Homo sapiens: one gene and its partner. The protein of the gene in region 1 interacts with the protein of each later gene in a biochemical or structural test. Each region holds a gene or a part of one and is shown in the gene's direction. Other genes may lie near its edges.

Region 1 (3,744 bases):
AGACCTTGAATTTGTGGGAGAATCCCGCCCTGGCGCTCACTCGGCGGGCTTATTAATGCCCTCTTTATGAAGTGTCCAAACCATCTGCATTTCAGCAGCAAAAGATGCTGCCGGCGGCTTCCTTCTGTGTCCCAAACCGTGCAGACCTGAGAGTCCTGGGGTTAGGGAAGTGGTTCCCCTGTGCCTACTGCTACCTCCTCGCTTGCCTTCCAGCCTCACCCTTACTCAAGCTTCAATGCGAAGCTCCGTGTCTGCCATCTCGCCTGTCTTCTGCCACCATCGCCCCCAATTTTGGACAGGTGGGCTGGATGCCCACTAGTTCCTATGCATTCTCTGTGTCTGAGGGGGTGGGTACAGGGCTGGATCCCCAAGGTCCAGCCAGGTTTTCAGAACCAAGAAAGAGCCTCCACATCCAAACACCTGCAATATCCCCCCACTCCAAATCTGGGCTCACAGGCTAACCCAGAACAGAAGACAATTTTTGAACCCAAGAGCTGCTGGGGAAATAAAAGTATACGATTGCTGGAGTTTCTAATTTCTATTAAGCAGTCCCTCTGGAAGACAGAGAGGACAGAGACGCTCTTGAAGTCAACTCCATATGCCCCATCATTGATTCCTGGATTCTTCTCTCCTCACCCCTCCCTCCCCACCTCCTGCCCTGTTTGTTTTAGTTACGAAATGCTGTGGGCACCTCGGTTGTGACTGAAAAGTAACCTTGAAACACGCCGGCCTGAATATCAGAGACAAATCTCAGCCTCCCAACCGTCGGCCGCTGCTAGAGGGGCTGCTTGCGCCAGGCGCCGGCCGCCCCACTGCGGGTCCCTGGCGGCCGGTGTCTGAGGAGTCGGAGAGCCGAGGCGGCCAGACCGTGCGCCCCGCGCTTCTCCCGAGGCCGTTCCGGGTCTGAACTGTAACAGGGAGGGGCCTCGCAGGAGCAGCAGCGGGCGAGTTAAAGGTGTGTACGTAGTTTTTCTAAATAGGACAGCGCTTTGCAAATTGGCTGTCATGGACTTGCTGTTTTGACAGAGAATGAGCACTGAGAGCGAAGAAACCCGGCATAAATAAATCCGGCTTTCATAGGGATCTGCCGGGCACTGAGGCTGGACGCGCCCTCCGACAGGCGCACCGGGCGCCCGGCGCGATGAGACGGGGCGGGGGCTGGAGGCCGGAGCCGCCCCAGAGGGTGGTTTCCTCCCAGGTCCCTCCTTCCTCAGGGGACTCGCTGTGGACCCGGGAGGAAAGGGGGCTCGACCAGGGATCCCGCGTGCCCGATCGCCCGCCCAGCCCGCTCCCCTGGCCCGCCCAGGAGTGCGGGGCGCCGCGGCGGTGGGGCGGACGGCAGGCGCTGAGGGGCAGGTGCGGAGCGCCGGCTGCGGCTACCTCTCACCTAGGTGTGAGCTGATTATTCAAATGGGCTGCCCCGGGTCTGGGGATTGGAGGCCCGCGCCAGCGCGCCGCGCTATATCACCAGCCTCCCACGTCACTGCGGCACTTGTCCGCTCCGCGGTCCACACCTCCTCCTCCTCCTCCTCCTCCTCCTCCTCCTCCTCCTCCTCCACCACCACCACCGCCTCCTCCTCCTCCTTCCTCCTCCTCCTCCCCACCCCCCCACTAGCCCCCGCGCCGCGCGCTTCCCGCCGCCTCGGGGCAGCTCGGCACTGCCAACCTCAGCCGCCACCCGGCAGCCCGTGAGCGCGGCGGCGGCGGGTGCTCCCTACCGCGGGGCGCTGGCCTGGGCCTCCTCCGCTCCTCGCCCCCCCCCACCTCCCGCCCACTTCCAACTACCGCCTCCGGCCTGCCCAGGGAGAGAGAGGGAGTGGAGCCCAGGGAGAGGGAGCGCGAGAGAGGGAGGGAGGAGGGGACGGTGCTTTGGCTGACTTTTTTTTAAAAGAGGGTGGGGGTGGGGGGTGATTGCTGGTCGTTTGTTGTGGCTGTTAAATTTTAAACTGCCATGCACTCGGCTTCCAGTATGCTGGGAGCGGTGAAGATGGAAGGGCACGAGCCGTCCGACTGGAGCAGCTACTATGCAGAGCCCGAGGTAAGCGCTCGTCTTTTCCAGGGGGAAGTGGAGCGGCGGCGCTCGCTCCTTCCCCAACCTCAGGACCGCTTCCCTCGCTGGCACCCCCCCACCCCGCCCCACAACCCCAGCCTTTCTGGGCAGCCGCCTTTTCCGCCCTCCTTGGAATCAAATGGGTCTCTTTTTTATACGACACACTGTTAGCCTTGAGATAATATTAACTTTGTGATCAAATATTGACTTGCGGCGCCTCCAAATCCTCTTCGTGGCCGAGCCACGCACTATCCTAACAGAGTTATGTTTGGCAGCGCGCGGCTGGGGAGGGGTGGGAGGTCGGCCGGCGAGGGGGTGGGGAGCTGAGGAGGAGAAGATGGGTAGGAGTTGGGGGCTGAAGTGGAGGCAGAGTCAAAGACTAGTGGACAAAGAGAAAGAAAGTTTTTGCCTGCAAAGCTCAGCCGCGTGTGGTTCAGGTCTCGGTTCTTTCCCTATTGCCCCGTTCAGTGCCTCCAGCCGCCCCCGCACTCCGCACAGGCACTGCCTTGCAGTTTCCCTGGGACAAGGGAGGGGGTCCCTGGAGGGAGACCGGACAGAGGGGGCCCGGGACAGTCTTCGCTGGAGGCAGCCCGAGGCGCCCCGCGCGTTGTCCCGCAGGTTGCTTGCTGCGACCGGAGGTGGCGTCCGGGGACTTCGGGCCTCGGCGCCAGCTCAGTATGCTGGTGGGAGAGTTTGGGGAGACTCTGGGGTAGGGGAATGTATTTGGGGTGCTGGCTTGGGAGTACTCCATGGGACCCCTGTTCTAGAATCTGGGCGAGGTGGAGAAGGGCTAGGAACGGGCCACATGCCCAAGCAGCAATCCGCTCGCCACCTTCCCAAGGGCGATCGATCATGACTCTCCCTGAATGAAACAGACTCGGAGTCCGGAGACTGGGCCATCGGGGACGAAAGGGCTCCCCGGAGGCCTCCCCGGACGCGGAGGCCTGGGCGGTGGGTGGGAGGTCTGGGCACCCTCCAGCCGCGGTGCTAACGCTGTCGCCTCCCTCCCGGGGCTCTGTCCGCAGGGCTACTCCTCCGTGAGCAACATGAACGCCGGCCTGGGGATGAACGGCATGAACACGTACATGAGCATGTCGGCGGCCGCCATGGGCAGCGGCTCGGGCAACATGAGCGCGGGCTCCATGAACATGTCGTCGTACGTGGGCGCTGGCATGAGCCCGTCCCTGGCGGGGATGTCCCCCGGCGCGGGCGCCATGGCGGGCATGGGCGGCTCGGCCGGGGCGGCCGGCGTGGCGGGCATGGGGCCGCACTTGAGTCCCAGCCTGAGCCCGCTCGGGGGGCAGGCGGCCGGGGCCATGGGCGGCCTGGCCCCCTACGCCAACATGAACTCCATGAGCCCCATGTACGGGCAGGCGGGCCTGAGCCGCGCCCGCGACCCCAAGACCTACAGGCGCAGCTACACGCACGCAAAGCCGCCCTACTCGTACATCTCGCTCATCACCATGGCCATCCAGCAGAGCCCCAACAAGATGCTGACGCTGAGCGAGATCTACCAGTGGATCATGGACCTCTTCCCCTTCTACCGGCAGAACCAGCAGCGCTGGCAGAACTCCATCCGCCACTCGCTCTCCTTCAACGACTGTTTCCTGAAGGTGCCCCGCTCGCCCGACAAGCCCGGCAAGGGCTCCTTCTGGACCCTGCACCCTGACTCGGGCAACATGTTCGAGAACGGC
Region 2 (3,744 bases), on another chromosome or scaffold:
ATTTATTTCTTACAAAACAAAACAAAACAAAACAAAACAAAACAAAACAAAACAAAACAAAACCTCACACACAGCCAATACCAGCGGTGGAGCGGGGCGCACTGCACACACCCAGTCCCGCTCCACAAGGATGCCCAAACCGGCTCCGGAGTTCTGGGGTGCGCCCTGAATGCGTCTGGGGCTCCTGTGCTAGTGTCTCTGAGCTCCCCGACCTCGGGACGCGGGGCTGCTGGGGAGGAAAGAGCCCTGGGCCGAGCCCCGTTTCGTGTCTGGGCGTCTCTGCCTAAGTCCCTCGCCAGTAAGTCCCGAAGGGCATCATCAAATCATCTCTGGCCAGTGGAAAGAGGGGGTCTAAGAGCTGGAGCCCGGCCTTGTCGCGGCCTCCCAAGCCGCCTCCCAGAACAGGAAGGAAGCTCGAGGAACAAAGGGGGCCCCAACAGAGCCCAGTCTCTCGGTCCCGCGTGTGCAACCGTCAGTGGAAGAGAAGCAGCCTCAGCCGAGGCGAGTTAACCTGGGCGCGGGTGGAACATTACAGCCCGGGGTAGGCTCCCGGCTCCGGATTCCCGCTCCCAGCCTCCGATAGCGCCCGCGTCGCCGCCACAGCAGCGTTCAGGACCCAACGAGGGGCCCAGGGCCATGGGAGCCGCCAGAGTCCTGGCTTCCAGACGTGCCAGGGGCGCCTGCAACGCCGGGCCTCCAGCGGGGAGACTCCACTTGCCTCTCAGCTATATTTGTGATTTACTTGAGTCTTTCGGAGCCGTGGAAAATAACTACAGAGATACTAGGCACTGCCAAGGAATGCTTCCATTATCGCCCTCATTTTACTCCTGGAGGTCTAAGCAAGACCCCAGTAACCCGCCCCACGGATCCCCAGACCCCAGGCAGCCTCTGTGGCTGCAGGGAGCCTGGGCCCACTCGCTGGGTTCAAGGAGAACCCTCCGACTTGGGGCCCGGCTGGCTCGAGGAACCGGACCCTGTGATGAAGATTTTCCAGGCTGGATACGTAAGCAAATCAAATCGCAAACTAATGACACGAAAACCATATTCACACGAAAGAAAAATCGACTACGGTTATAAAAGTGTATGGAATTTGACCTCGCCTTGGAGAAACACTACACAAAAGCTATCTTTAATAGACGCCTGTCATTTAAGAGCGGCAGGGACACTGTCCCTCATGCGCTCGCAAAAACAGAGCCGTAATTGTAGCTGCTGCTGCTGCGGGCAGGATTTATTTCTCCAATTGGCTAAATGGCTTTCCCCCTTCCCCGAAGGTGATATCTGTATTTTCAAAATTCAGAGCTGCTGGCAGGACGGTCAGTACCGACCCCAACCTCGACACAAAAATAAGAGGGGCTGCAAAACGGGGGAAATAAAGTTGTTGTAAATAAAATGCAAGTCACCACCTCCCCCCAATCCTCTGCATCCTCGCCGGGCGCGCGATCGGCAGCTGACGGCCTAACAATTGGTACATCCTAATGGAACTGCGAGGGAAATGCAATAATTTTGCCATAATGGGCTGTAACCTCAATTCGACCCCGGCCCTTGCAGCCCCCGGTCGGAAGCTGGGCGATGAGCCCTGCCTCCAGCGGGTGGCGCTCGAGTCCGGCTGAACGGCGGCAACTGGCGGCGGGCACGCGCCCGGGGCGCGCGCGCCACCCCCCTCGCCTCCACCCAACTCCCCTATTAGTGCACGAGTTTACCTCTAGAGGTCATCAGGCAGGATTTACGACTGGACAACAAAAGCACGTGATTCGAAGTCGTACCCCATATTTGGGTGCCTACGTAGGAGGGAACCAAGTACATGTCCCAGTCATTTCCATAATTCATCATAAATTGTGCAAGGGTGCTATAGACGCACAAACGACCGCGAGCCACAAATCAAGCACACATATCAAAAAACAAATGAGCTCTTATTTTGTAAACTCATTTTGCGGTCGCTATCCAAATGGCCCGGACTACCAGTTGCATAATTATGGAGATCATAGTTCCGTGAGCGAGCAATTCAGGGACTCGGCGAGCATGCACTCCGGCAGGTACGGCTACGGCTACAATGGCATGGATCTCAGCGTCGGCCGCTCGGGCTCCGGCCACTTTGGCTCCGGAGAGCGCGCCCGCAGCTACGCTGCCAGCGCCAGCGCGGCGCCCGCCGAGCCCAGGTACAGCCAGCCGGCCACGTCCACGCACTCTCCTCAGCCCGATCCGCTGCCCTGCTCCGCCGTGGCCCCCTCGCCCGGCAGCGACAGCCACCACGGCGGGAAAAACTCCCTAAGCAACTCCAGCGGCGCCTCGGCCGACGCCGGCAGCACCCACATCAGCAGCAGAGAGGGGGTTGGCACGGCGTCCGGAGCCGAGGAGGACGCCCCTGCCAGCAGCGAGCAGGCGAGTGCGCAGAGCGAGCCGAGCCCGGCGCCGCCCGCCCAACCCCAGATCTACCCCTGGATGCGCAAGCTGCACATAAGTCATGGTAAAGCCAGCCTTTTTCTAAATCCACGCGACCGCGGGGACGCGGCTCTCGGTCCCCCCTCTCTTCTCTGCCGCCCTCTCCCAGTCTCTCTTGGTCTCATTTCTCCCAGCCCTGCGGAGCTCTCCTTGCCGTTCTCCCTCCCCTGCCTTCCTCCTTCCTCCTCTTCTTTGCGAGCACCCTGCGCTCACAAATAGTGGGGGAAATGGGCGTTCTCTGGGACAGTTTAGACGTTGGAAGGGGGAGGAAGCAAAAAACCCCTCTGGAACCCCACGCCTTGGGACGCGCTCCCGGGTCAGGCCAGCCGAGCAAGGCGCAGAGAGGTAGAGGATGGCTGTAGCAGCCGTGAATCGGGCTTGTCACGGCGGATAATTTATGAGGAGGGCTACGCTGGGGAAACAGCGTTACTAATTACAGCCCCCGAAAAGGGGCTTGGGGGAAAGAATCGAGGCGAGAGCCTGCAGGATTCTGAATTTTGGGGGCAGGAGGGAGAGAGAAGGAAAGGGAAGAAAAAGAAAACAGGCTCCCCAACCCTGCAGGCTGGAAACGGGAGGCGGCTCTCGGGGCTGGAACTTTGAGGGAGGGTGACCCGAAGGCCACTTGGGCGCTCAGGAAAGGGCCTTGCTTCCTGGGTTTCTGTGCGGTGGGCAGCCTGGGAGGGCTGTGCCTCCCGATCGGGGCGCCCGGGGCAGGGCGGAGGGGGCAGGAGAGGGGCCAGGGAAAGCCGGAGTCCGCCGGGACACGGCCCCAGCCTCAGATGGGCAGATTGTTCCCAGGGTCCAAATCGTATTGTTTTCTTTCTAGAAAGGAAGAGAGAAGGAAATTCGGGAGGGGTGTGCGGGCTGGTAGGCAGAACTTGTTGAGCTTTTCGCCTGGGTTCCCTGCTCATGACCCAAGCTTGTCCCCCTGGCGGACTTTGGAAGACAGGAGTTGGTGGCTAAACCGCTGACTTTTCTATTGCAGACAACATAGGCGGCCCGGAAGGCAAAAGGGCCCGGACGGCCTACACGCGCTACCAGACCCTGGAGCTGGAGAAGGAGTTCCACTTCAACCGTTACCTGACCCGCAGAAGGAGGATTGAAATAGCACATGCTCTTTGCCTCTCCGAGAGACAAATTAAAATCTGGTTCCAAAACCGGAGAATGAAGTGGAAAAAAGATAATAAGCTGAAAAGCATGAGCATGGCCGCGGCAGGAGGGGCCTTCCGTCCCTGAGTATCTGAGCGTTTAAAGTACTGAGCAGTATTAGCGGATCCCGCGTAGTGTCAGTACTAAGGTGACTTT

Evidence for each region. The genes of interacting proteins can lie anywhere in the genome.
Region 2: the proteins of FOXA2 (region 1) and HOXA5 form a complex in vitro, tested with the Homo sapiens proteins (2 studies listed by BioGRID).

Annotation. Positions count from the first base shown.
Region 1 is NC_000020.11:22,582,486-22,586,229, reverse strand, and holds the start of FOXA2 (hepatocyte nuclear factor 3-beta), read left to right. Parts: upstream 1-1,657; 5' UTR 1,658-1,951; coding exon 1,952-2,038; exon of another isoform or gene 2,039-2,487; intron 2,488-3,075; coding exon 3,076-3,744. UniProt on the Homo sapiens protein: Transcription factor that is involved in embryonic development, establishment of tissue-specific gene expression and regulation of gene expression in differentiated tissues.
Region 2 is NC_000007.14:27,141,766-27,145,509, reverse strand, and holds the start of HOXA5 (homeobox protein Hox-A5), read left to right. Parts: upstream 1-1,828; 5' UTR 1,829-1,902; coding exon 1,903-2,464; intron 2,465-3,424; coding exon 3,425-3,675; 3' UTR 3,676-3,744. UniProt on the Homo sapiens protein: Sequence-specific transcription factor which is part of a developmental regulatory system that provides cells with specific positional identities on the anterior-posterior axis. Also binds to its own promoter.